7 linked regions of the Homo sapiens genome follow. The protein of the gene in region 1 interacts with the protein of each later gene in a biochemical or structural test. Each region holds a gene or a part of one and is shown in the gene's direction. Other genes may lie near its edges. The genes, in order: ADGRA1, DLG5, PTPN3, SNTG1, ARHGAP21, SNTG2 and ARHGEF11.

Region 1 (4,751 bases):
CTCAGGGCAGGGCTCCAGTCCGTGTGCAGGGAAAGAGACAAGCCAGGGCCACTCCCCCCACCGGCCGGGGCCTCCTCTGGGCCCCAACTGTGATGTGCCAGGAGCCTCCCGGGAGACACAGGCTGACCTGTGCTCAGTGTGGTACCCTCACCTGGAGCAGTCTCTGTGGTGGGAGCCGCTGGGTGCAGGAGTAAGACGTCAGGGCAGAGCCCATGGGGACCCCCGGCCTGGGGACGTCTGGGGCAGAATCCTCCCCTTGCTGCCCGCTTCTTCCCAGCCCTCTTGTCCAGGACCATCACCCAGGGGACACCAGGGGGGGCTCCGAGGCTCCAAGGGAACGGTGTCCAGGGAGTCAGGGCGGCCAGGTCCTGGGGTGCCTAGAGCGTCTCCAGCTGGGAACTAGACCGTCGCCTGCCTGGACCCTGTGTCCCTCAGCTGGAGTTCAGGGACCAGCACAGTGTCCCCACAGAGGGGCTCTGGGAACACCAGCTAGATGGGGCAGTGGGGCCCTGAGCACATCCCGCTCAAAAGCCCCATAATGAGAGGCCGGGGAAGCGGAACGCTGTCACCCCTGCATCTAATTCTGCCTCTGTGAGTCTTCATGACAACCTCCCAATAGTACATCCTTCAGGCCCCTCAAAATCCATGGCAGCAGGGCCTGGGGACCCCCTGAACAGGCGCCAGTGTCACAGAACCTGGGGCAGAAGTAGCCATGCAAGGGTGGAGGCCAAGGAGGGAACAGGTGGAGGGGTGTGGGGTCACCCAGGGCCAAAGGGGGAACAGGTGGAGGGGTGTGGGGTCACCCAGGGCCAAAGGGGGAACAGGTGGAGGGGTGTGGAGTCCCCCAGGGCAGTTCCTGAGACTCTTGCTGAGGCTGCCACCAGGCCAGCACGTGCCCCAGAAAACGGAGTTTGTGACGAAAACTGGAGTGGACTTGGACCCACCTTGTCGGGTAGGAGGCCCCTTGGGGCAGGATAGGGACCTGTGGGATGTGTGCAGAGCCCAAACCTCGCTGCGGGTGGGAGGCTGGGCTGCGCCGCCCCTGGCACCCTGGCCTCCACACTCGCCTTGGCTCTGGATGCCCAGCTCTGTGGCCCAGGATGCAGGAGGGTTGGGGTAGGGGGACAGGGACGCTTTCTGCACAGCCACAGGCCCTGTCTGTCTACACCGGCTGCGGCTGCCCTGCTGACTCACACTCAGACGGGTTCACGACAGGTGCACCTCGGTTCTGGCATATCTGGACTTGAGAATGTTAAATAAAGGATGGAAAATTCCTTCCAAATCCATTTTCTTGTGTATATTTCTGTTCCTGCAGCTTCTCCACGGATGGAGATTGTCTTTGGGAATAACACAGGGTCGTGCAGTCCGCCCGGCGGCGTTTTCGGGCGAGGGTCTGGTGCTGGGGAGCGAGCGCGGAGCGAGGTGTCTCTTTAAATACGCTCTGCAGTGTGACGGCGGCCGCCCGGCTGGAAGAGCCATCCCCACCCTGCGGCAGGAGCCCGCCCGCCGCCATCGCCCGCCCCGGTCCCCATGGTTACGCGCCTGCCTCCGGCCCCGGGTCCCCGCTGTCGCCGCGGGAGGTGCGCGCAGAGGCGGCGGCGCTGCTGGCCGGGCTGGGCCGCTCGTGCGCGGGGCTGTGACTCACCGGCCGGCGCCGCAGCCCCGCAATCTGTTGATAACTCGGTCCCAGCTCGGCCGCTGCCCTCGCGAATGGAGAGCGGGTCCCCGGCGGGGGGAGCGCAGCGCGTCTGTCTCCGGGAGCGCGGCCCGGCCGCCCCGGCAGCCGCTTCGGCCACAGCAGGTGGGAAGGACGCGCGGGTCTGGGCGGCGGGAGGGACGCGCGGGGCCGCGGCTCGGCAGAAAAGCTCGCGCCCCGAGGTGACACTGGCCGCGAGGAAAGCAGCTCCGAGTAACTTTCGGCTCCGCTGGGGCGGGAGGCGCCACGGATAATCCAGGGCCCCCGCCCCGCGCGCCCGGCCCGGAGCTCGAGCCACATCCAGGCAGAGCAGGCGCCGCGGCCGGGCTGGGGCGGGCGGGTCACTCGGTGCCGGTTCCCGGTGCAAACCCCCCGGCGCGCCTCTGGCTTTGTGCAGCCCGAGATGGTTGAGTTTGGCTCCGGAGCCGGGAGTGGGGCGCAGATTGATTTTTAAATATGGAGAAGGAGACGCATCTGCCGCTGGCGCGTTCGGTCCGAGCCCCCCACCGGTCCCCACCGGCACCGCCTCCGCCAGCCCCAGGCGCAGCCCCCAGGCCGCCCGCGGAGGGGAGGGAGCGACAGGGGCCGCGGCTGCTCCCTGGCGGGGTCGGGGCTGCGAGCTGCCCTCCGCGGGGACCCTCCGCCCGCCCCGCTGACCGCCGCTGTCTTCACAGATGGGAGCAGCTCCCGGACTGCGCCCGCCCCGCCGCGGTCACCCTGAGGCCAGGGGCCCGGGAGCGCGACCTCCTGGCCGCCGTCTGGGACTTTGACCTTCCAGAGGCCATGGAGGCTGGCGGGGAGCAGGGCGCCACCTGATCGCCTCCCCCTGGACGCCTCCTCCAGCGGCGCTCACGCTTCCGCAACTTTGCAGCGCTCATGGTGAGTACGGGGGTCCCGGGGGTCCTGCAGCTGGGGGCTAGGCCGCTGCGGGGGGGCGGCCACCCGTATGGGGACTCCCAGGCTGGAAAAGTTGTGGAATGGCGAGCTGGTGACCGGGCTTCCGGGCTCAGTGCCGGGGTGGGAGGCTCTGTGGAGTGGGGGCCGGGGACAGGCCGCGTGTCTGGGCACCTCTGCTCCCCGCGTGCTGGGTGCTGATCATACTAATGAGTTGCAGGCATATGGCAATGTGGAATCATTTAATCAATGGAGGCGACGTCCCTCCCGCAAAGCTGGCATCCGTGCCCTGTGAAAACCTGGTCTGTGCCTGGGCTGGGGTCCCTGCCACCCCAAGCCCCTCCACCCTGGTCACCGGCCTCCTCCACGCCACCCTGCCGGCCCCTTCCCATTAGAAAGTTGATGAAAGGCAGTGCGGACAGACGTAGGTGGGCTTCAGCAGTGGAGGCTGTGGCGGAGAGAAGGCGGCCGCGCACACGGCAGGCACGGGAAGGGTGTTTCAGCGGGAAGGGGCTCGTGGCTGGCAGCTGGCTGGATCGGCTAGCCGAGCCCATCGTGGGTCCCTCCCTGAGGCACCAGCAAGCTTTTGCTGCAGTTGCTGAATGTCTGGGTTCCGGAAGGGCTGACAGCTGAGTGAACAATGCATTGTGTGTGCTGGTAAGGGACAGCTGACAGGCGGTGAGGACCCAGGGCACGTGCAGAGAATGCCAATGGCCTCTAGAATGTGCGGCCGCCACAGACGCCGGCTGGCGTGCTTCGGAGCAGACCCAGTGTTCGCTGCATAAGGAGCCATCGGTCTGAGTCACTTGCTCATTTTCTTCTTGTTCCGTTCGAAATGTCCAAGCAAGAGAGATGCCTTTGCCAACATTCAGTATCGTCTTCCAGTGGCTGCTTCACCTCTGAGGCTGGCTGAGGTCTCCGCACTTACCTTTCAGACACCTGACAAGGTTGCGTCTCCAGCACCAGCAGCACCTCAGGGGGCAGCAGGCCAGCCCCAGGGCTCCTGCCTGCCCCCAGGCTCCCACCAGCCTCAGGAACCATCGCTGTTGCCCCGCAGGTACCACACCCAGCGCAGCCCCAGGCCTCCCAGTTGGCAGGATCTGTGGCTTTTCAGCCTCAAATTGAGACCCTTATTTGCAAAATGGAAAACTGTCATTGACAGAGGACAGTGAACGGAGAAGGGCTTCTGAAGGTGGGGGTGCTGCCGCAGCCCGGGGGTCCCTCTCATCCCCTTCCTCGCCTCCTCCTCTCTAACCCTTGGCCCTTCTGCGAACAACTGTGCGGGGGCCTCCCCAATCCAAGAAGGGCACCACCCCTCGCAGGCTGAGCCTGTTCGTGCACTCTCCTCTCAGCTCCTGGCTCCTGGTGGAGCTTCCTGCTACCACCTCCTCGGCCCGGGGCCACCCGGTCCCAGCCGGCCTGGCAGCCCAGAGCTCCTGCTCACCCAAGACTGTGAAAGCCTGCTGAGCTCGATCTGCCTGGAGAGTGTGGCATTTCAGCAGCTCACTGTTTTTATTCACAACAAGTAACATTTGCACCTGAGAAAATCTCTGAAAGTGTGAGGAGTTGCCCTCCCGTGCTGCATCAGTCTGGTGCAGCATTTTTCTGCATGTGTCTCCAAGTTCACAGCGTAGTGTGACAGCGTAATTCACAGCACGTGTCTCCAAGTTCACAGCGTAGATACCTGGGCAGGCTCACCCCATGGCCATGGGGTCTTGAGAAGGAAGCCTGGAGGCCGTGGCCAGGGCAGGGTGGCCCTGACTCTGCCTGCCCCACTGCTGTGCTCTGGGGGGCTCCTGACGCCTGCCAGGGGCAAGCTGCCTGCTGAGCTCCCAAGTGTAAGGGCATAGGGCACAGGTCACAGGTCAGATTCTTTGGTGGCATCGCTCCTGGCCAGGCACAAAGGCATGAGTCAGCCCTGGATTCTGAGCTGCTGTCCAGCAGCTTGGCTGGGCCAGGCCGTCCTCTCAAAAGGCTGGTTTGTCGGCCCATGGTGCTCTACAGGATGGACAGTTTGCTCCCCTCTGGAGGACCTGCAGGCCACCTGTCCAGTGGTTAAAGCTGGGGCACCTCCTTCTGCAAGCTGTGTCTCCGTCACCACTGTTAACGAGCAAAAGCAAATGTGAACTTGCCTGTCTCCGCAAGGGGTGCTATCAGGACT
Region 2 (4,202 bases), about 55 Mb from region 1:
CGTGCCTGGCTTATTTTTGTAATTTTTGTATAGATGGGGTTTCACCATATCGGTCAGGCTGGTCTCGAACTCCTGACCTCGTGACCCGCCTGCCTCAGCCTACCAAAGCGCTGGGATTACAGGCATGAGCCACTGTGCCCGGCCCAGATAATTTCAGAAAGTGTTCAAAGTTAAGAAAACTTTGACTCTTCTTTGAGTTCAGAGTGACCAGAGCCATGAGAAAACTTATCCATTAGGGAGAAGCATATGTGTTCATGTGTGTGTGCATCTCTGTCTATCTGTCTCTTTTTTAAGGGGCAGGTGGCCCATTCCTGACCATTGCTTTACCTCTGGGGATGGTTTTCAGTGGCAGCTCCAAGTCCTGCCATCTCACTCTCTCTCTCACTCCTCTGCAATCCCTGCCTAGGTATTCCCTCAGAGCTCCTCGTGGAGTGGCCAGAACATTTTTGAAAATATCAAAGACTCTGATAAGATGCTGAGTTTTCGAGCCCATGGCCCGGAGGTCCAGGCTCATAACAAACGGAACTTGATACAGCACAATAACTCCACGCAGACAGACATCTTCTACACGGACAGGCTGGAAGACAGGAAGGAGCCAGGCCCCCCAGGAGGCAGCAGCTCCTTTCTGCATAAGCCATTCCCTGGGGGACCCTTGCAGGTCTGCCCCCAGGCCTGTCCCAGTGCCTCTGAGCGTAGCCTGAGCTCCTTCCGCTCAGATGCCTCTGGGGACCGTGGCTTTGGGCTGGTGGACGTGCGTGGCCGGCGGCCACTGCTGCCCTTTGAGACCGAGGTGGGCCCCTGTGGGGTTGGGGAGGCCTCCCTGGACAAGGCAGACTCTGAAGGCTCCAACAGCGGCGGGACCTGGCCCAAGGCCATGCTCAGCTCCACGGCAGTGCCTGAGAAGCTCTCTGTTTATAAAAAGCCAAAGCAAAGAAAGTCCATCTTTGACCCTAACACTTTCAAACGCCCCCAGACACCCCCCAAAATAGACTACCTGCTTCCAGGTCCTGGGCCTGCTCACTCTCCCCAGCCCTCCAAGAGGGCGGGGCCTCTGACACCCCCAAAACCTCCCAGAAGGAGCGACTCCATTAAGTTCCAGCACAGGCTGGAGACTAGCTCCGAGTCAGAAGCCACTCTGGTGGGCAGCTCCCCATCCACTAGTCCCCCGAGCGCCCTGCCCCCTGACGTGGACCCCGGGGAGCCCATGCACGCATCACCCCCTCGCAAGGCCAGGGTCCGCATTGCTTCCAGCTACTACCCTGAAGGAGATGGGGACTCCTCCCACCTGCCGGCCAAGAAATCCTGTGATGAGGACCTCACCTCCCAGAAGGTGGATGAGCTGGGGCAGAAGCGTCGCCGGCCAAAATCTGCTCCCAGTTTTCGGCCGAAGCTTGCTCCAGTAGTGATTCCTGCTCAGTTCCTGGAGGTATAGCTGAGCCCCAGGGTGTGGGGAGGGGAGGCCTAGAGAGGGGCAGTTGGCCGAAGGAGGGCTGCTAAGTGGCCCTGCACCAGTGTCCCAGGCCCCTGTTTAGCCTGGTGCCTTTGCCTTTGCTGTTGGACTCAAGTGGGAAGTGGCCCAGCTAGGAGGTAGGTAAGTGGCGTGGAAGTGCATGGTAGTGGGAGTGTGACACAAGAGGGGAACACTTTATTGGGCATAGCATTTGGTTTGCTTTTTTAATAAGAAGCTTTTGAACTTACACAATAAAACCTAGGGCATAGACTTGCCTTGAAGGGCTAGGGAGATGAGGTGGCACGTGTGAGGCTGAGTGGGCAGCGGGACGGCCTGATTGCGTGTGCTGTCATAGTTTCCAGAAGGGTGAGATTGCTGGGGACTGTGGAAAGCATCTCAGGCACCAGTCCACACTGCTCACTGGGGACAAAGAGCTTCGCACAGCCCTCCACATCGGGCAGAGTTGTACGTGCCTGATGCACTTGTGCATTCTCACCTTTTACGTGATCTCTGTGAAAGATTCATTCTCTGTGGTTTTCTTCTGAAGTAAAGCTGCTTCCTTGAAGATGTGTAAGGCAACATGAATGGGCAGCGTTCCCATTCATGTCCCTTCCTGTGCCCCAGTGGGAGGAGCTGGTTCCTGGGGGGCAGAAACTGGCTTGCAGAGCTGCTCAAGCGTTCCACTGTTTGGTTTTTTTTTTTTTTTTCCCCTAAGATGGAGTCTCACTCTGTCACCCAGGCTGGAGTACAGTGGTGCAGTCTTGGCTCACTGCAACTTCTGCCTCCCGAGTTCAAGCGATTCTCCTGCCTCAGCCTCCCAAGTAGCTGGGATTACAGGCACCCACTACCATGCCCAGCTAATTTTTGTATTTTTGGTAGAGACGGGATTTCGCCATGTTGGCCAGGGTGGTCTTGAACTCCTGACCTTAGGTGATCTGCCCGCCTCGGCCTCCCAGAGTGCTGGGATTATAGGTGTGAGCCACTGCGCCTGGCCACACTCCACTCTTTCTAGCAGACACTCTTGCCCTTGCATCTGCAGGAACAGAAGTGTGTCCCGGCCAGTGGAGAACTCTCCCCGGAGCTCCAGGAGTGGGCACCTTACTCGCCTGGGCATTCCAGCCGGCACAGCAACCCCCCGCTATACCCTAGCAGGCCGTCTGTGGGTGAGTCAGCCAGCCAGGGGCTGGGGCTGAGGGTCGGTGTAAACTCGGGATGCCTAGTCTCCAGGGAGAGGGGAGGCAGCATTTCAGAGAGCTGCCATGTGTTTTCAGCCCTGAGGTCCAGAGAACTGGGAAATGCTGTCCTGTCTGGGATGGTTTGTCTTATAGCCATGACATGTCTTAGCTTGTCAACATGCTTTCTCCCCATAGCAACCTGGGAAATAGGAAGCATGAAAGAGACTTCCCCCCTTTTTACAAATGGAGACAGGCCAGGAGCCACAGCCACATTGTGAATTGGTGGTTAAAACTCATCTCCCAAGTCCTTTTCCCAAAAGACTGCGGCTGCGTCCTGGGATACAGGGGAAAGGCTTGTGTAAGTCCTGGGCTGGCTGGGTCCTTTGGGGCGTCTTTTCTCACCAAGCCCATTTCTAGGCACTGTTCCCCGGAGTTTGACCCCCAGCACCACTGTGAGCTCCATCCTGCGGAACCCCATCTACACTGTGCGCAGTCACAGGGTCGGCCCCTGCAGCTCTCCACCTGCGGCCCGAGATGCTGGCCCCCAGGGTTTGCATCCCAGGTATGTGAAGGCACCCTACGCTTCTCTGTACTCCAGCTGCCCAAGCCTGCCTGGACATGGAACCATGAGTGCATAAAGAGGCTCATTGGTGGAGAAGCTTCCTTGCCTGCCTGGGAGGGGACTGGCTAGAGCAGCACAGGGAAAGGGAGCCTTAGGGCTGCTTTCTGAATTCATCAGCACAAGGTTTCAAAAGGTACTGGAAGGACACGATAGTGATAGCAGCTGATGTTTGAGTGCTTATGTCCCAGCCACTGTGCTCAGACCTTTATGAATATCATTTCACCGAATCAACAGCAACCTCATGGGCTAAGTCCTATTACTGTTTCTGTCTTGAAGATGAGGAAACTGGTACTTCATAAGAGGGTGGGCTGGCTCCAAGCCACTCTTATTCATTCATTTGACAGATATTTTTTGAGCACCTACTACATGCCTTGGTCTATCCTAATTATAAGAGGATACATTGCTGAACTAAACAAATTAGCTTCTAGCTCATGTCGTGTGGTTTTTCAAATGTGGGAGGCAGACAAAAAAAAAAAATGAACGAAGTGATATCAGATGGTGCCAAGAGGCTATGAAGGCAGTCAAACAGGGTGACAGGCTGGGCTGTAACTTGGAAGAGGGTGGCAAGTTAGAGTGGGTGGTCAGGAAGGGCCCTGTGGCAGAGGGGATGCTGCTGTGACCAGAAGGATGAAAGAGGCCAGCTGCACAAGACCTGGGCTGGAGCCTCCAGGGAGAAGGGCCATCGGTGCCAAGGCCAGGGCACCCAGGCACAGTCGTGGGAGCTTGTCAAAGGGGCAGCGAGTCAAGAAGAGGTTTGAGGTCACAGGGCACAAACCCTGTGGGACCTGCAGCGGTGATGAAGAGTTTGGATTTTATTCTAAGGACAGTGGAGACCACTGTAGAGTTTAAGCAGGGAAGAGATGTCACCTCATTACATAGCTGGAAAAAGATGCTGTTGAGGCCTGGTCTCAGGGCAGCCTGATGTGGGCGATCCCTGCTCTGCCCTTCATTTTCT
Region 3 (4,202 bases), on another chromosome or scaffold:
CTGGGTTCAAGTAATTCTCCTACCTCAGCCTCCCAAGTAGCTGGGATTACAGGTGCCCACCACCACGCCCAGCTGATTTTTGCATTTTTAGTAGAGACAGGGTTTCACCACATTGGGCAGGCTGCTCTCGAACTCCTGACCTCAGGTGATCTGCCTGCCTCGGCCTCCCAAAGTGTTGGGGTTACAGGCATGAGCCACCGTGCCAGGCCATATTTTCTAAATCATTTGTTGGTTTTTCAAAATTGTTTTCGTGATTTGTTGTTGATGTGGCTATTACTAACTAAATGAGACCCGTGTCTGAGCCATTATCTTTCTGATAGGTGGAACTGCATCAGACTGTTCCAGTTACTTTCCTAATACATTGATAATCATTAGGGAACTTGTAAACTGAATAAGTAGCTAATTTCTGTTAGTATCAGTGATACTATTTGTGGTGCTAAATGCTATCTCTCAGCTTCTGATGAACCAAGAGTGAATATATTAAGTTTTTAGCTCTTATAATACTGTTTAGTATTTGTATACATTCAGTAGATCTACTGTTGAGCAAGCCATGAAAATAACTTACTGGATTATATCATTGACTTAGGTTGGGCCTGATCCTCAGGCCAGATGAGAGAAGGAATGGGGAGGCAACTGAAACCATGCCCTCTGTTGCTGAGCTGCCTGGGTTCAAATCCTGCCTCTGTCACTTGAGCTTTAATTTGTTGCTTCTATTTCTTCATCTGCAAAGCTTTGTCATCTGCATGCATCCAATGCCAGCAGGGCTGGGTTCTGGTCTTGTATTGTGGCACAAGAAAATACCCCTATTTTGGTGACTGAAAGCAACACCCATTCTGTTATATCTCATGACTTTGTGAGTCAGGAATCCTAGAAGGGCTTGGCCAGAGGCCTCTTCTGCTCTGTGTGGTGTAGATAGGGATTTCTCAGTGAATGTGGCCAGAGGATCCAAGATAACTTCTCTTGCATACCTGGTGTCTTGATGGAATGGTTGGAAGGCTGGACTCACCTGGACTCCTTAGCATCCCCATCTGGATACTCCAGGAGGGTGGTTGAATTTCTTACATGGACACTCAGGGTTCCAGGAGCGAAAGGCAGAACCGTTCAGCCTTCTTAAGGGTGAGACCTGGCACTGGCACAGCGACTCTGTTGCTGAAAGCAGTCACAAGCCAACCCAGATGCAAGACTCAAAGAACTTGCAGTCATCTTTAATCTGCCACAGGGGATCATTTGGGTTGGGAGGATGGCTTGGGAGGACAAGTCAGCAGTTCTTTTACTACCTGTGCCAGCTTCAGCATACTGGTGAATTTCAAGTCTCATTACCTCCATTTTACAGATGAGGACACTGAGGCTTAGAAGGGTCACATGACTTGCCCAGCCCCTAGAGATACAGATACACATCTGCTTATTGGGCCTTCTGAAAGGTTCCACATAAAAAGAAATTTGTTGGGTTATTTTCCAAGCTTATGGGACAATGGAACACTTTTTTTTCAGAGAGTCCCTATTAATAACCCATGACACATTAAACCTTGGAGTTGGGCAGTTTGCTCCCCTTGTTTTGATCCTGTGCTCTTCATCACTGGCAGTGTGGTTTCTGATGTAGGCCTGCCTCAGAGGAAAGAGTCTCCCAGTGATGCTGTTGTGAGCATTTTGATCAGGGTGACAACAGCATTTCTTAATGTGAATTAGTACATGATGTGCTACAGGGCGATTCATATTGTTTATGTTCTTTTGTTTGTTCTTTGTTCTGTTTTGTTTTTGTTGGTTGGTTGATGTCATGTCACAAGGAAATGTGTAGAATGTTTTCATAAGACATTAAATCCTAGTTTAAAATTTAGAGATGCCAGAACCAAAGTTGTCACCCTTTAACAGGGTGACAGGCTTCATGCTCTATTCTCTCAAATAATTCATTCTCTGAGGGGTCTAGATAGCTAAGATTTAAATTCTCTAGGTATAAATAAAATTCAAAAGTAACCTTCAGGGTAGCACATTTCAAAGAACGTAGCCTGAAACTCTGTATAATTTTTTGTTTTTGGAGACAGAGTCTTACTGTGTTCCCCAGACTGGAGTGCAGTGGTGCGATCTTGGCTCGCTGCAACCTCTGTCTCGGGGATTCAGGGGGTTCTCATGCCTCAGCCTCCCAAGTAGCTGGAATTATAGGCATGCGCCACTATACCTGGCTAATTTTTTGTATTTTTAGTAGAGGTAGGGTTTTGCCATGTTGGCCAGGCTGGTCTTGAACTCCTGACCTCAAGTGATCCACCCGCCTCAGCCTCCCAAAATGCTGGGATTGCAGGCATGAGCCACTGTGCCCAGTTTGAAACTACTTTCTAAGCGCATTTTCAGATTCTCTCTCAAAGATTTACCAGTGATTTATAGTGACAGCTCCTGCCAGCTAGGATGATGAAGAGCACCTGAAAAAATGGTTAATATTTTTACTTAGGCCAGTGTGAATAAAATAAGAATTCCTTGAAATCACTGGAGCTGTATTTCTGTGTGATCCTGGAATTCCTTCTAATCTGGTTAGGTTTGGTTATATTCTGGAAACAGCTTTGTTGCTTGAGTAGTGAGGACAAGAAAGGATTTTCACCCGAAGAGAAGAAATCACATAAGGAAATTCCAGGACAGACAGGAATCGCTTTTGAGCTGTCTCCCTCTACTCCCCATAACCTTGGCATTAACCTGCCGTCCTTCAGACAAGAAGCATGTGTAGACTGTTTCACACATGCAGTAATTTCTTTCCTGTTGAACGTCAGTGTAGAAAGTGAACCTGCATCTGGTTTTTCAGGTCGGTAAATAACCAATATTGCAAAAAGGTGATTGGCGGGATGGTGTGGAACCCAGCCATGCGGAGATCCTTATCAGTGGAGCACTTAGAAACCAAGAGTCTGCCTTCTCGTTCCCCTCCCATTACTCCCAACTGGTATGTCCTCCTTTTTTTTTTTTTTGTACTACCCAACAGTAGACACTTTATCTCTTTTAAAAATAAAAACTCAACTTATAAACTCCTAAAGATAGATGACCTACAATTTGCATTTTAGGCTCTTGGCAGAAGTAACTGTTTTCATGAAGTACACAAGTCTAGCTAAATGTTTTCCATCGTGTATAATGCTGAGATGCTCTTTTTAAAAAAACTTATTCAATCTAAATAGTTTGGGAAACTCGAGCCTGCTGAAAGGCCTCCTTTGGAATCACAGCACACATTAGCATATTAAACACTCTGAGACGTCCAATAATAAAAAAGTACGGTTAGCTTTACTTAATTCATGTTTTCCATTAATATCCCACAAAATAAACTTTAGGGAAAACTAACGCAGGTACGTGATGTAAATGATGTAAGGATGTATGACCTTCAGCAGCAGAAGCAAATGCACATCAGTAAGTAGCAGGCCAACTTAAGAGGATGGACTCAGCTTAAAAAGAAATAGGTGGTCGTTTGGTAAAGTGAGAAGGGCACTGGGTTTGTAGCAGAAAGACCTAAACTCAGGTTTTGGCCCTTCTGTTAATTAACAAGTTTCTTTACCTCTGTAGCCTCAGTTTCCCCATATCTAAAAAGATGATAAAAACTACCGCAAATGAAATAATAATGTACAAGTACGTAGTAAGCTTTTAAAAGAGTCAGGTGGAATTATCATTATCTTATTATAATGGTCCTCAAAGACATCACACCATTTTTGTGAATACCTCCAAAAAGGCTAGGGGCCAGAGGGGAAACCTAGCAGGGAATCATTGCCCCCAGCTCCACACTGGAGTAAGAGTGCGTGGCTGTAAATACCTGATCCAGGATCTGCTAAGCCTAAGAGAAACTGGGAGACAGGCAGACAGAGGAGATGCTGTGCTGGGCCTGCTAGGGAAGGACCCCTTCACTGGGGGCCTAATGCTCTGGGAAGGGACAGTGATAGTATTTAGTGTTAGAAATCATGACGTAACTGAATAGATTTGCTTCTTGGTTTCCAACATTTAGATACCTCATTCTAAAGAGGTAAATTTATGCTATAACACAGCAGCTTAATTTATCTGAAAATCTCATCGGCAGCAATGCCAGGGGCCCAGAGAGCCCAGGACTGGATCCAGGGGAACAGCGGGGTTGGATGTTGCCACACTCGTGGCCCGGAGCTCCTGTGGCTATTTATAGGTCCTCTCCTGAGGAGTCACAAGAGCCTTTTTACTTCTGCTTTGGACACAGCATTATTGATTATCCAGGC
Region 4 (4,202 bases), on another chromosome or scaffold:
GTGGCACAGTCTTGGCTCACTGCAACCTCCTCATCCTAGGTTCAAGTGATTCTCCTGCCTCAGACTCCCACGTAGCTGGAATTACAGGGATGCACCACCATGTCCGGCTAATTTTTGTATTTTTATTAGAAATGGGGTTTCACCATGTGGGACAGTCTGGTCTGGAACTCCCCAACCTCAAGTGATCTGCCCACCTCGGCCTCCCAAATTGCTGGGATTACTGACATGAGCCACTGCGCCCAGCCTCTTATTTTTTTTATAATGGCATTTACAATAATTTGTACTAATATATTTACTTGTGTAGTTATTATCTCTCATTGTTCCCTCCATAGATATTATAACCCCAAAACTACTAAAAAGTATTTATAATTTATCATTAGATTGTACTCTCAAACATATTATGTTTTCATTTTTTTCTCCCTTCAGACAGAGTAGGAAAATCAATAAGCACAGCATTTATCATCCTTTTAGCTTTCTGAGCATCTACTGGCAGCAAGGGTCAGAGCTAAATTCTACAACCCTGGAAGTAAATGCCTTCCATTAGCTCTCTTCCAGCAATTATAAGAATGCAAGCAGGAAACAATGAAAATAGTTATTATTTTTTAAACATTTGCCAAAGCAGAGAATTCCATCTAACATTTTGGGTGTTTAATAATGATACACTTACATCCCTCCTTATGAGAAATGATTACAGATACCAGTGATTAACCCTTTGACAATTTTCAGTACACTGCATAGATATAGCATATATACAGTCATTTAATAACTGAGATATATTTCAGGAAATGCCTCTCAGTTAGATGGTTCCACTGTTGTACAAACACCACAGAATTTGCTTGCACAACCTGAGACAGCATAACGTACTGCACAGCGAGGTTATACAGTACAGCCTATTTCTCCTAGGTTACACACCTGTATAGCATATGACTGTATTGAATACTGTAGGCAAAAGTAACATAATGGTAAGTAGTTGTTTAAACACATCTACACATAGAAAAAGTAAAGTAAAAGTACAGTCTAAAAGATTTAAAAAAAAAATGATACACAGATACAGGGCACTTACCATGAATGGAGTTTGCAGAATGGTAGTTGCTCTGGGTGAGTCAATGAATGAGTGATGAGTAAATGTGAAGGCCTAGGATGTTACTATACAGCACTATAGACTTTATAAATACTGAGCACTTAGACTACACTACATTTATAAGAAGTATTTTTTTCTGCAATAATAAACTAAGCTTAGCTTACTGTAACATTTTTTACTTTACAAAGTTAATTTTTTCAACTTTGGCCTTTTTTGTAGAAGTGCTTAGCTTAAAACACAAACACATTATGTAGCTGTACAAAATTATTCTATATCCTTATTCTCTACATTTTTTTTCTACTTTTAAATTTACAAATTACTTTTTTATTTTTGGCTTTTTAAAATTTTTATAAAAAATAAGACAGAAACACACACATTAACCTTGGCCTGCATATAGTCAGGATGAGTTCCATCATCACATCTTGTCCCACTGGAAGGTCTTCAGGGGCAATAACACGCATGGAGCTGTCATCTCTTATGATAATGATGCCGTCTTCTGGATACCTTCTGAAGGAACTGCTTGAGCCTGTTTTATAGTTAACTATATTTTTAATAAATAGAAGGAGTACACTAAAAAAATAGGAGTACAGTAAATACAGTAATATTTACTGTATTACTATAATACAGTAAATACATAAACCAGTAACATATTCTTTCTTATCATCATTATTATTATGTAGCATACATCATAATCGTATGTGCTAGACTTACACAGCTGTCAGCACAGCAGGTTTGTTTACACCAGCATGACCACAAACACAAGAGTAATGCATTGCTCTATGACATTACAACGGCTATGACATTGCTAGGGGATAGGAATTTTTCAGCTCCCTTATAACCTTATAGGATCACCGTCGCATATGCAGTTCATCATTAACCCAAACATCCTTATGCGGCACATGACTGTATTTAAAATGCTATATCTGACATGTTGCATTGGGTTACTCTGTTTCATAAATTATTTGCTTCACTTTTTTTTCTCATGTTAATGTCTCTTAAATTGGAATATATGTAAATTTGTGAACACTTCAGTTGAAAACTTCTGGTAAGACCAAGAAATTGCCAGCATCAAAGTCGTTTTTTTGATACAATGAAATACAGTTACACAAGTAAGGTAAATAATGCGTTTTTTTTTAAGCAATATTATTGCTGTAGACAAATTAGACTCATTTTCTTTTTCATTTCTCATGGAGAAGAATATTTTGGTTTGCTTATAAAGTTCCTTAAAATTTACAAACATGTTCACAAGCATTATTTAATTTCAACATCATAACAGTTATGTAAGGAAGGGAAGAGATAGTGTGTCACCCCTTTGTAGAGTAATAAACCAAGTCTTGTATGTTAAATGCTTTGGTGGTTATATTGTTAGTAAGAGATGAAGCCAGAAACCCTAACTTCTATTTTATGGACATGCTTCAGTGTAAAGACAGAGAAGTCATGTGTTGGGGCTTTGAAGCCCGGAGTTCTGGTATAATGTCTAATGAAGACTTGGTGAATTCGCAGAGTGTTGTCTTTTTACCTGTGGCTTCTGCACCTTGGTCCAGTCAGGAATGGCCAGGTTAGCAATGTGAAGTGATGTGTGCCAGCCTGTGTAACTCCAGGTTTTCACCAGGACAGTGACCTGCTGGACCGACGGAAACAGTGCTTCACCGTGCAGTCTGAGTCTGGGGAGGACCTGTACTTCTCAGTGGAGCTGGAAAGTGACCTCGCCCAGTGGGAAAGAGCCTTCCAGACAGCAACCTTTCTAGAAGTAGAACGGATACAGGTGAGAGTCTGTGGGACTGCAGGATGTGTGGCTCCCTCAGATGCATGACCACTTCCCTAGAGTTCTAATATCATTCCAAAGTAGTGTAAAAATACAGTTCTGGGAATCTTGACCTCATATACATTCTATAATTAGCCATTTTTGTTTAGTGACTAGTAATACAGCTCTGAATAAAATTTTAATTTTTCCACGACTTGATCTTTCCAGGCTATTTCCTACTACTAATTAAAAATATATTTCTAATTTTAATTAGACATTACTCTGACTTAAATCTAATATAGAAAATACTCTGATTTAATGAATTGTTGACAAGGTCACTTCCTGTTCTCCAAATATGACCTCCTAATTTCCAGCCTGTTGGCGTCATTTACTCACAATGCTCTTTCCCTTTGCCTCCATCCTTCAAAGCCACACAGAGTTTTTGAGACTTTTTATCAAAGGTCATATCATCCAGGAACATGTCCCTGATTTCCAGTCCACCCTGCCTAATGCTTGCCAATACTCCTTCTACAACTATCCTGTTCAAACAACTCTTCTTCTCACTTTTGAACACAATATAATGTACTTTTCTGGTTTTTTTACAGATAAGAAAACACAAACTAATCAATTGTATTCATACTACTCATGAAAAGCAATTACATTTTTACATGAAGTCATTAACACATACAACAATAAAAATCATAAAAGTAATACATCTGATTAGAAATACAATATAGGAAATAGATTTTAAAATAGTGTAGTTTAGTGATAAAATTTATACTGTGTTTTCTACTTATTTATAGCAGCATCTATAAGATTCTTCTATTTATTTGTCTTTTTTTTTTAAGGATTGCACACACTCAGTCTGTTTTGTATTGCAGTGACATGTGCTTGTTATTCCCTGCACTAAATTATAGGTTGTTTGGAATTATCTTATCATGTGCCAACCAAAGTCCAGTGCATTTTGCACATCATGAGTATTCAACAGATATTTATTGAACTTTGTTTCTTAAGTGTGAAGTTATACACTAGATCAAACTTTATAGAGCCCTCAGCTTCTGTCTTCACAAGACCATTGAACAAAACAGCCTCCCAAAGTTGGTCCTGTGGCTGACCTCAAACAGACCTGTGGACAAATTAAAAGGTTTTCATGCGCTTGCCACATGCAAATAGATCCATAGAGCAAGGACCTAAATACACACATGGACACTTAATTTTGAAAACAAATGTGGTGAATAATCTAGCATTGACTATACTGGAATGTTTGCGTAAAACAGGATTGTTGGATACATATATTTTGAACATGTTGAACTGATTTCTATTTTCTGACTACAAACCTCTGTAATCAACACATCAAGTTGTACCAGTATGACATTA
Region 5 (3,089 bases), about 110 Mb from region 1:
ACTCCTAAATACTTCAGCATGTATCACCAGAGAACTGGGGCATTCTCCTATATAATTACAGTGTAATTTTCATACTCAGGAAACTGAGGTAAGTACAACACATTATTATCTAATGTGCAGTTTTTATACAGATTGTCCCAGTAATATTCTTTACTTCCTTATACAGAATGCAGTCAAGGATCATTCCTTGCATTTCTTTGTCAAATCTCTTTAGACTTCTTTAATCTAGAACAGTTTCCTTAACTCTGTTGCCAGCAGATGAGATTTTAAACCAGAGAGACCTGTTTGAAATCCCTGCTTTTCCCTTCTCTAGATGCATTTTTCTTAACCTGTTATTACAGTAGCCTTTTCATCTTATCCATAGTGGTGTTATGCTATGCCTGTAATATAGTGGATATCCCAATGACATGATTAACTACTTCTAACAAACAGTCTCTGTAGAAAAGTAGAGTAATTTGCCTCAACACATATATGATCATAGAATTGTAAAGAGAACCTTAAGGAAATCTGAAAGACAGTATAATCTAATTGCTTCTCGCCACGGAACTGAGATGTTTAAAAGTGAATCCCTTGCTCGTACCCAGCAAGCTAGAGAGGATGGACATCAAGGTCTCCCAATTGAGAGCCCAGTCACAACCATTATCCCCTACAGTCTTCAGCACAATGTGGGGAAATGTAAATAACCATTAGAAATGTGCTGGATAATTATGAAAGTCTTTATAACTTGTAAAAACAAAGTTCTGTTCATCTGTGATTTCATCTTAGCGAATTTTTGATAGAACAGCCTAAATTCTTTGATAGAACAGCCTAAATTTTTACTTTAAGACTTTAAATAGAGCAGTTTTAACTTGTCTAAGATTTGCAGGCAATAGAGAAATATACTGTCTGTTTCTATTACTCAGCATACCTCCTGCCTACCTGCTTGTCTTAAAAAGTGTGTGGTAAACCAGCAGATATTTAGGAAGAAACTAATAGTTGCAATCAAGAACCTATTATATCTAGATGCAGTGGCTCATGCCTGTAAATCCTGGCACTTTGGGAGGCTGAGGTGGGAGGATAGCTTGAGACTAAGGCTTCTAGACCAGCCTGGGCAACATGGTGAAACTCCATCTTAAAAAATTTTTTTTAAAAGAACCTATTATACATAGCAAATAACTTTCCCAATAACACTGCACTACAGTGTTTCTGTGGTAAGGATTTAATTGTACTTATGTTAATTGATCTTTCCTTTCTACCTTCCTGGGGTGGGTTCTCACTCTGTCACCCAGGCTGGAGTGCAATGGTACCCTCATGCTCACTGCAGCCTTGACTTCCCCAGGCTCAGGTGATCCTCTGACCTCGGCCTCCCAAGTAGCCAGGACCACAGGTGCGTGCCACCATGCCCACTTAATTTTTTGTAGAGACAGGCCTTCACCATGTTCCCTAGGCTGATCTCGAACTTCTGGGCTCGAGCAATCTGCCCGCCTCAGCCTCCCAAAGTGCTGGGATTACAGGCATGAGCCACCACACCTGGCCTGTTTTTTGAATATTCTAATTCCATTGTTACCTTGAGATAAATGAAGACATTACCAACCTGATTTACTTAAGGCAGATCCTTGAAGATCCTGCCTGAATGAACTAATGGAAGACCAGAGTTCCCTTATCTCAATGAGCTTATCTGATACAGTATCTATATCATGTGGTACCTGTAATTAGAAAAATCAAAGTCAGTCATAAACATTTAATAACCTATATCAGAATGTGATGTTTAATAACCTATATCAGAATATGATGTTTGACCGTGTCACAATATTGTTTTACCTATCCCATGCCTCTATTCCAAATGAAGGAAGTGAAGAATGCCTGGGCACTGTGGAAGGAGGGAAGGTCAGGTGTTTGGGGGATTTTGATAGGAATCAGCACTAAGCACAGACTATTTTCCTGAAAGGCAGATGTGTATGAGCTGTGGCTTGGCAGTTAAATACCACGAGGCAAGAAATTGGACTCATTAAATAAAAATTTGACTTTGGTTCAAGGTAAAAAGAGGTATTAAAAAAAAAGCTAATTGCACTGTTAATGCTTCCAGAGCTTTAGTAGATATAATTTGATAAGAAATATTTGGGAGACAAGCTTGTCAGAAAATGAACTCAGCTGCATTCTTATGCTCAGAGTCTTTCTTCTCTCTTGCTTCCCAGGGTTCTTGGGGATCTGGAAAGGATCAGTATAGCAGGGAACTGCTTGTGTCCTCCATCTTTGCAGCTGCTAGTCGCAAGAGGAAGAAGCCGAAAGAAAAAGCACAGCCTAGCAGCTCAGAAGATGAACTGGACAATGTATTTTTTAAGAAAGAAAATGTGGAACAGTGTCACAATGATACTAAAGAGGAGTCCAAAAAAGAAAGTGAGACACTGGGCAGAAAACAGAAGATCATCATTGCCAAAGAAAACAGCACTAGGAAAGACCCCAGCACGACAAAAGATGAAAAGATATCACTAGGAAAAGAGAGCACGCCTTCTGAAGAACCCTCACCACCACACAACTCAAAACACAACAAGTCACCAACTCTCAGCTGTCGCTTTGCCATCCTGAAAGAGAGCCCCAGGTCACTTCTGGCACAGAAGTCCTCCCACCTTGAAGAGACAGGCTCTGACTCTGGCACTTTGCTCAGCACGTCTTCCCAGGCCTCCCTGGCAAGGTTTTCCATGAAGAAATCAACCAGTCCAGAAACGAAACATAGCGAGTTTTTGGCCAACGTCAGCACCATCACCTCAGATTATTCCACCACATCGTCTGCTACATACTTGACTAGCCTGGACTCCAGTCGACTGAGCCCTGAGGTGCAATCCGTGGCAGAGAGCAAGGGGGACGAGGCAGATGACGAGAGAAGCGAACTCATCAGTGAAGGGCGGCCTGTGGAAACCGACAGCGAGAGCGAGTTTCCCGTGTTCCCCACAGCCTTGACTTCAGAGAGGCTTTTCCGAGGAAAACTGCAAGAAGTGACTAAGAGCAGCCGGAGAAATTCTGAAGGAAGTGAATTAAGTTGCACCGAGGGAAGTTTAACATCAAGTTTAGATAGCCGGAGACAGCTCTTCAGTTCCCATAAACTCATCGAA
Region 6 (4,202 bases), on another chromosome or scaffold:
GGTCAAATCTGTTGAGGTGTGTTTTGTGACAGGAAGATTCCCAGCGGTGTGGGCGGGATTCGGAGGCCTTTCTGCATGTGGACAGGAAGACCGCAGCGAAGGCAGGCAGTGTGACCGGGCACATGAGAGCTGGGCTGTGGGGCTTTTCCCGGCAGGAGCCGCAGGGTGCAGGGTTGAGGCTGGCACTGAGCCCACAGTCAAGAGCGCAGGAAGAACGGCTTAAACAGACTGGCTGTCCTCCACAGGAGGTGGAGACCTGAGCACGTAACTTCAATTCCTTAATGTCCTAATACGTTAAGACATGTGCTTTGAACGTTATTGGAATAAATTTATTTCTCTTAGCCAAAAACTGAATTGATTCACTTTCTAGAGTATAAGTCTATTTTCAGTTTTCTCTTTGGAATTGAAAAATTCTCTAAGGGCACGAGGAAACCCTGGGAGGAGGGTAGACTTTTCAAAAGTGCCGACACAGTCAGTGCTTGACTTCCCCATGGATGGCGAGTGTCTGGGAGCTGGTTTGGTTTCTTCTCGGTGGACCCCGGGGTGCCAAGCGCTCTGCCTTCACTTGGTGTGGCTTTGCTTACAGCAGCTTCCTACAATCTCATGTGTGTCCATCAAAGAGCATGTTAGCTCCTGAGCAGCAGATGCTCTGTGAATTTTAGCTCCGATAATGACCTTGGCCACGTGAACACCATCCTAAAAGGCCTGAGCGGCCACCATGAGGCGGGTAGAGAGGCCGGGTTCCAACTGTGAGCCACGGAGGAAACTCGGAGGAAACCGTGAAACTCGGAGGAAACAAAGGCCCAGAAATGCCCTGGAAGAAGCGGCTCCTGATCTTGCATCCAGACGTGCCTGAAAGCAGATTGCGTGACTTACACTAGTTACCCGGCTTCTATAACAATAAACCAAACAGTGAACCAACAGTGAGCCACGCTGTGAACTTTCTTTCCCTGTTTCATTAACATGTTAGTATCTGCCATCAGCATTCATGTCAACAACTTTCACAGTTTCTGTTCATTTGATACTTAATTTTTATTGCTTTCTTTGATAAATTACAGACTAATAATGTTTATATGGTACTTACGGGCTTACAAATAACTTTGTTTCAGTTATCCCATTTGTTCCTCTCAGTATTCCTATTTTGTGGTACGGTTGGCATTTGAAGCCCATCGTACGGACAAGGAAAGCCCAGCTCAGAGGTGAGATGTCCAGCCTGCCTCATGAAGCTATGGCATAAACGTGCCTGGACTGCAGACGCCTTCCTTTTTATTGCAGGACACAGCCGTCTGCCCCTCGTGCGAGTCCGTGAGCCTCTGGGGCTCCACGTGCATTCACTGCCTCAGGGGGCAAAGCTGATGATCTTTCTCAAGACCACAGCATCGATAAAGGGTCCTTCATGGAGCCTGGGTCCACTGTCTCTACTCACATCTTATTCCTGCTACATCAATGATGGTGTAAACCTCCAAAGGCAGAGTTAGGACTCTGGACTCAGATTCCTTCTCACCACTGACTTTACGAGGATGACCACAGTACTGACCCTGCTGAGAGCACCCAGTGTTCAGTCATCCATGCATTTGGTGCATACGTCACCAACCCTGAGAATCAGGAAATGCCAACTCCCTGAGAAGACACTGTCGTTAGTACATGTGAGCTGGAGCCAAGCGGTGACCATGCGTGTCCTTCACACGCCCTCACGCGCAACCAGGGACCCCCAATTCATGAGAGGGGGGACCCCTGCCCCCATGCTGCCCTGAGGTCCCTGCAGGCCCCACCAGGCACCCCCGATTCATGAGAGGGGGCGCCCCTACCCCACTCTGCCCTGAGGTCCCTACAGGCCCCACCAGGCACCCCCGATTCATGAGAGGGGGCGCCCCTACCCCATGCTGCCCTGAGGTCCCTGCAGGCCCCACCAGGCACACCCTATTCATGAGAGGGGGGCCCCTGCCCCACGCTGCCCTGAGGTCCCTGCAGGCCCCACCAGGCACCCCCGATTCATGAGAGGGGGGACCCCTGCCCCACGCTGCCCTGAGGTCCCTGCAGGCCCCACCAGGCACCCCCGATTCATGAGAGGGGGCGCCCCTACCCCATGCTGCCCTGAGGTCCCTGCAGGCCCCACCAGGCACACCCTATTCATGAGAGGGGGGCCCCTGCCCCACGCTGCCCTGAGGTCCCTGCAGGCCCCACCAGGCACCCCCGATTCATGAGAGGGGGGACCCCTGCCCCACGCTGCCCTGAGGTCCCTGCAGGCCCCACGAGGCACCCCCGATTCATGAGAGGAGGCACCCTTACCCCCACGCTGCCCCAGGATCCCTGCAGGCCCCCTAGTCTAGCTGGATCCAGGAAAAGCTGCCCCTGGCCCACACTGGCACCACCCCCTGTTCCTCCCCAGGCCTTTGGAGAAGAACAGGCTCTTCTGAAAGAATAAAAGCGTAGAGCTCTGAGATGGGGAAAATTGGAGGATGGGACACAGGGAACTTTTGAGGATTCTTCTAAAGTCTGTTTTTGGTCTGAGAGTTGGTTGGCCAAGAGTATGGAATACATGACTGTTTATCGAGGTGTTCACTGGTGAGTTGTGTGCGTGTGTGTGTGTCCTGTAGCTCAATGTAAAATATGCCTAAAAATAATAGTCTCTGACCTCTTCATGTGGGGAGCCAGGGAACTTGGCTGTCGTCCGCAATAATCTACTTGACCCAGCTGTTTATTAACCACTAGATTAAGGTCAGCCTTGCTTTGTATATGTCGCACCAGTTAACATGAACAAATGAGAAATGATGGCAATGAACCCATTTTTAGTTAGCACTTACTTTAATAAGAATTAATGGATACTTGGACAAAAGTGTAGATATAAGTCTGTCAATATTTAATAAGCACCTAATTCATGTGGAATATTACACAATCTGCCTAAAATAGTCTCCCAGCATTTTGAAGTGTAAAAATTAATTTATTATAGCAGACATCCAGGACCAAAGGCCCCACGGGAAGCGATGGATCCTGAGGGACAGGTGCTCCCCAGGAGGACCAGGAAAGGTGATCAGAAAGGGCTGTGCGAAGGTGGAGGCAGAGCTGCCTGCCCTCCCCATGCAGGGGACCTGCTTCCTCTGGCTTCTTCCCCTCTCCGGCTCCACACAGTCACCTCCACCTTCACCTCTGTCCTCCTGCCAAGTCAAGAGTACCTTGTTCATCGCCATCAGGCAGAATATCAGCCACAAGTAGATAAACCTCACATTCTGATTCAAGAAACACTAATTAGAATGAGAATGACCCCTAGACAGGGATGTCAGCTTTTTAAAAGAATGACTTTTAAAATAGCAAACTCTGGTCTGATAGATTTGGCTCAAAAATATGCAGAACTGTGTTATACCATCTCTGTTTCCTACCCCTTCTCCTACACACCCCACCTTGCCTAAGAAAGCAGCGATGACACTCACATTTGAAAGATTATTAGAACATAGCTTAGTGATGACTTATTTTTTTAAAAAAATATGTTTGCTTTGTTCTGTATTTTATCTTCAGTTAGCTGCTTGAGACCATGGAGGTATTATGAGTCATATACATTAATATGCATTGTTTTCTTTTTTTCTTTTTTTTTTCAGATAGGGTCTCACTCTGTTGCCCAGGCTGGAGTGCAGTGGTGTGATCTCGGCTCACTGCAACCTCTGCCTCCTGGGTTCAGGAGATTCTCCTGCCGTAGCCTTCCGAGTAGCTGGAGCTACAGGTGTGTGCCACCATGCCCGGCTAATTTTTGTATTTTTCGTAGAGATGGGACTTCACCATGTTGGCCAGGCTGATTTCGAACTCCTGACCTCAAGTGATCCACCTACCTCAGTCTTCCAACGTCCTGTGATTATAGGCGTGAGCCACTGCGCCCGGCCAATATGCACTATTTTCTTAAGAAAAAGTCTATAAAAGTGTACATGACATTTCTCTTTTGCAAATAGGCATATGTAAAGTATGTTTTTAAAAAATATTGCATGACAGGGAAGAACTACTGAATTTGAGACGGTTGGTTGTTAATACTTTGCCATGATTGAGTTCTCAGCAAGTGGAGTGTCATGGAGCAGTGGAAGGGGACTATGTTCTCCCAAAGCTCCCCTGTCAATCAGAAGCACACAGGTGGTCCTAGAGAAGGGTGGATGCTGAGTGCAGAGGGTGCTGGGCTGCTCCAGCCTCACCCCATCAGGAGCTTTAAGTGCTCCATCCAA
Region 7 (3,500 bases), on another chromosome or scaffold:
GGGAATAGAGCTGGAGGCATGGGCAGGAAAAGCAGTATGTGATCTTCTTGGGACTGTAGCTGGCACGTGGTAGGGGCAGGTGGGAGACCCAAGTCAGAGCCATTGGTATATCCCCCTGCTGCCACATGGCACATGACTTCACAGTTACCTTTTTGCTTGTCTTCATCCCGCACAAGAGAGTAAGGGCAAGGACTTTTTCTTATTTACCAATTCCCAGCACCTTAACACAATGTCTGGCACACAGTAGGCTCTCAAACACTTGAATGAATGAATGAATGAATGAATGAATGAATGGTGTCTCCTTAACAGAGCCTGGATCTTACAACCAGAAAAATGATCCATGAGGGACCCCTGACCTGGAGGATCAGCAAGGATAAGACCTTGGGTATGTGCCAGGGGACTGGGACTGAGCAGGAACCTGTAGTGGGTGGGCCTCCCTGGGCTCTTCTGTCTTTCCCAAGCATGGAAACATGACTGGAGGTGATAGCTCAGGACATGGGAAGGGAATAATCAGAGAGAGAAATGGGGTCACCAGACTCCCAGGACTTCCTAGAGCCTCCAAGAGCCTGTGGCCCTGCATTGTGCTCATGAGGGATGAGTAGGCACCAGGGAACACCTTCCCATGACCATACCCCTCCAGACCTCCACGTGCTGCTGCTGGAGGACCTCCTAGTGCTGCTACAGAAACAGGATGAGAAGCTATTGCTGAAGTGCCACAGCAAGACTGCTGTGGGCTCCTCAGACAGCAAGCAGACCTTCAGCCCCGTGCTCAAGCTCAATGCTGTGCTCATCCGCTCTGTGGCCACAGGTACCTGGGGAGATGGTCCAGGCTGGCCTGGGGCTCAGGGACCATGTCCAGCAAGTGCTGGGTGAGGCAGGGCCAGTCTGGAGCCTTTACAGGACCTACCTGTCCACCTGTGTTCCTTTCCTCCTGTCCTGACCCAGCCTAAGTGGTAGGACTGGCCCAAAGTGGGGTAGGATGAGGGTTAGGATGGGGACCAAGAGGAAGACAGACAACCTGGCACAGGGGTGGTCAGCAGTCCCCAAGCACAGTGCTGGATGGGATGTGCACACCCAGGATGGGTGAGAGTGTCTGAGCAGGATTGGGAAGAATGGGATTAGGCAGAATGAGTAGGACAAGCCTTTCTGCTACAGAGTGACTTGGGCAGAGCTTGGTTACAGAAGATGTTAGTACCCACGGTACAGAGCTGGGTCCAGTGGACAGGGACATTTCAATGAGAAGTGTAGTGTGTGTGAGAAAGGGCTCTGGAGCAAAATTCTCTGGATTCACTTTCTTCGTCTGTAAGATAGGAGTGATACCTACCCTACCTCTTGTGGGCATCAAAAGGGATGACGGGTATGAAAAAGTTTTATAAACCCTTGACCAGGCACTGTGGCTCATGCCTGTAATCCCAGCCCTTTGGGAGGCCGAGGCACTCAGATCACTTGAGGTCAGGAGTTCAAGACCAGCCTGGCCAACATGGTGAAACCCTATCTCTACTAAAAATACAAAAATTAGCCAGGCATGTTGGCAGGCACCTGTAATTCCAGTTACTCGGGAGGCTGAGGCAGGAGAATCACTTGAACCCGGGAGGCGCAGGTTGCAGTGAGCCAAGATGGCACCACTACATTCTAGCCTGGGTGACAGAGCAAGAATCCGTTTCAAAAAAAAAAAAAGTTTTATAACTCCTAAGCACCATACACCTATCAGCCATCACTGTTATTAGAGCAGGAGAGGAATGGGGGTGGCTGTGGAAGATGACATTAGGGGTCCTGGAATTTCCTCTGTCCCTTATGTAAGTGGGTTCCAAGTGGTCCTGAAGATCCACATCTGTCTCGTGCTGCACTCTCCATCTGCGTTGAGGGTCAGGGCTTTGAGTCCCACTCTGTCACCCTGGCCCAGGCTGCAGTCACACCTGCCATCCCTAGTACAGACCCTTCTACCTTCCTTTCCTCACACAGATAAACGGGCCTTCTTCATCATCTGCACCTCCAAGCTGGGCCCACCCCAGATCTATGAGCTGGTTGCATTGACGTCATCAGACAAGAACACGTGAGAATTGATTGAGGGGTTACCCGTAACTGTGGTCCCTTTCGGACCAGGGTGGTGTTTATGAGGACAGTGGGTAGCAAGGCCAGGTTTGGGCCCCAAAGCAGTCCCTGGACAAGGGGTTGGGAAGGAAGTGGGAGGTAGGACAGAAGTAGAGAAGCTGGGAGGGGTCATCACCCCCGACCTGGTCACCAGGCCCGCTTCTGGGAGAATGAGCTTCTGGCAGTCTTCCAGCCGCTGCTGCTGCTTCTTTCCTTCCTGCCCTACTCCCTTCACCATTAGGCAGATTAGATTCATGCATCCTTCTCAGGCATTTGCCTCCCACCCAGCCCATGTTCTTTGACAGCAGCTGCCAGAGGTGGCATGGTACAGTGGAAGGAGACAGGTTGAGTCAGACTGTTTCCCAACTCCAGGGTTTTCATCTGTAAAATGTGGCTAATGCTACCTGTTAGAGGATTACTTTAGAGGGAAAACATAGAATGCTTTGCACAGAGTGTAACAGAGGGTTGGTGTCCAGGATTTGGTAGCTGCAAGTAATATAACCGCAAGGGAGCAGCCAGGGAGGACTGTACAGGGAGGTGGGCACCTGCCAGGCAGAGGGTTCTTAGGGCCTGGAAGCCCTGTTCCAGTGGGCTCAGTACGGGGTGGTGCGTGCTGCTATCTTGCTCTCACTACAGTCCTCTCTGTTCCTGCCGAGCAACAGATGGATGGAGCTCTTAGAAGAGGCCGTGCGGAATGCCACCAGGCACCCCGGAGCTGCCCCAATGCCCGTCCATCCTCCACCCCCAGGTCCCCGGGAGCCAGCCCAGCAGGGCCCCACACCCAGCAGGTGCAGTGCTTAGCCCTCCAGACCCTGCACTCTCTCCACTCCAAACCTCCTGTTTCCTGCTGCTTTTAAGCCCTTCGCCCCCGTGGGTAGACAGCCACAACAGGGAAATGCTAGCAGGGAGCAGACAGCTCCAAGTGCTGGCAGATGGAGGAACATGCCCCCTGTCCCTGCTTCTTGTCCCTGTCTGCTCCCCCACAGCCTGCCACCTGGCTATAATAGAGCTGAGCCTGAAGAAGGGTGAGGGGGATGTAGAGCAAGGGACCAGAGAAGCTCAGCTAGCAGCCCCCCTCCTCTCTGGGTTGCCAAGCAGACCAGCCAGGTGAAGAGGCCCACACCGTCCTTCTCGGATCCTACTCCATTGCCCATTCTAATGCATGAGTCCAGGGTGGAATCTCATGGGATCTCATCCTGTGTTGGTTTCCTTCCTCAGGGTAGAACTGGATGACTCAGACGTGTTCCATGGTGAACCTGAACCTGAGGAGCTGCCTGGAGGTAAGGGCCCTGAACTGTCCTGTGGGAGCCAGCCCAGGCCTTTTTCTGTAGGCACAGGTTGGGTGTGAGTATGGGGGCGATGGGAGAGTCCATCAGGGCCCGGGGTGTGAGGTTTTGATAAAGAGTAGA

The links.
Region 2: the proteins of ADGRA1 (region 1) and DLG5 interact in a test that uses a peptide from one of them, tested with the Homo sapiens proteins (one large-scale study listed by IntAct).
Region 3: the proteins of ADGRA1 (region 1) and PTPN3 interact in a test that uses a peptide from one of them, tested with the Homo sapiens proteins (one large-scale study listed by IntAct).
Region 4: the proteins of ADGRA1 (region 1) and SNTG1 interact in a test that uses a peptide from one of them, tested with the Homo sapiens proteins (one large-scale study listed by IntAct).
Region 5: the proteins of ADGRA1 (region 1) and ARHGAP21 interact in a test that uses a peptide from one of them, tested with the Homo sapiens proteins (one large-scale study listed by IntAct).
Region 6: the proteins of ADGRA1 (region 1) and SNTG2 interact in a test that uses a peptide from one of them, tested with the Homo sapiens proteins (one large-scale study listed by IntAct).
Region 7: the proteins of ADGRA1 (region 1) and ARHGEF11 interact in a test that uses a peptide from one of them, tested with the Homo sapiens proteins (one large-scale study listed by IntAct).

Annotation. Positions count from the first base shown.
Region 1 is NC_000010.11:133,086,338-133,091,088, forward strand, and holds the start of ADGRA1 (adhesion G protein-coupled receptor A1), read left to right. Parts: upstream 1-1,586; 5' UTR 1,587-1,801; intron 1,802-2,370; 5' UTR 2,371-2,572; coding exon 2,573-2,575; intron 2,576-4,751.
Region 2 is NC_000010.11:77,818,306-77,822,507, reverse strand, and holds part of DLG5 (disks large homolog 5), read left to right. Parts: intron 1-406; coding exon 407-1,426; intron 1,427-2,489; coding exon 2,490-2,613; intron 2,614-2,820; coding exon of another isoform or gene 2,821-2,903; exon of another isoform or gene 2,904-3,042; coding exon 3,043-3,187; intron 3,188-4,202. UniProt on the Homo sapiens protein: Acts as a regulator of the Hippo signaling pathway.
Region 3 is NC_000009.12:109,421,436-109,425,637, reverse strand, and holds part of PTPN3 (tyrosine-protein phosphatase non-receptor type 3), read left to right. Parts: intron 1-2,785; coding exon 2,786-2,920; intron 2,921-4,152; exon of another isoform or gene 4,153-4,202.
Region 4 is NC_000008.11:50,701,907-50,706,108, forward strand, and holds part of SNTG1 (gamma-1-syntrophin), read left to right. Parts: intron 1-2,667; exon of another isoform or gene 2,668-2,693; coding exon 2,694-2,846; intron 2,847-4,202. UniProt on the Homo sapiens protein: Adapter protein that binds to and probably organizes the subcellular localization of a variety of proteins. May link various receptors to the actin cytoskeleton and the dystrophin glycoprotein complex.
Region 5 is NC_000010.11:24,585,192-24,588,280, reverse strand, and holds part of ARHGAP21 (rho GTPase-activating protein 21), read left to right. Parts: intron 1-2,174; coding exon 2,175-3,089. UniProt on the Homo sapiens protein: Functions as a GTPase-activating protein (GAP) for RHOA and CDC42. Downstream partner of ARF1 which may control Golgi apparatus structure and function. Also required for CTNNA1 recruitment to adherens junctions.
Region 6 is NC_000002.12:1,233,371-1,237,572, forward strand, and holds part of SNTG2 (gamma-2-syntrophin), read left to right. Parts: intron 1-4,202. UniProt on the Homo sapiens protein: Adapter protein that binds to and probably organizes the subcellular localization of a variety of proteins. May link various receptors to the actin cytoskeleton and the dystrophin glycoprotein complex.
Region 7 is NC_000001.11:156,941,243-156,944,742, reverse strand, and holds part of ARHGEF11 (rho guanine nucleotide exchange factor 11), read left to right. Parts: intron 1-309; coding exon 310-385; intron 386-640; coding exon 641-808; intron 809-1,962; coding exon 1,963-2,053; intron 2,054-2,753; coding exon 2,754-2,879; intron 2,880-3,309; coding exon 3,310-3,371; intron 3,372-3,500. UniProt on the Homo sapiens protein: May play a role in the regulation of RhoA GTPase by guanine nucleotide-binding alpha-12 (GNA12) and alpha-13 (GNA13). Acts as guanine nucleotide exchange factor (GEF) for RhoA GTPase and may act as GTPase-activating protein (GAP) for GNA12 and GNA13.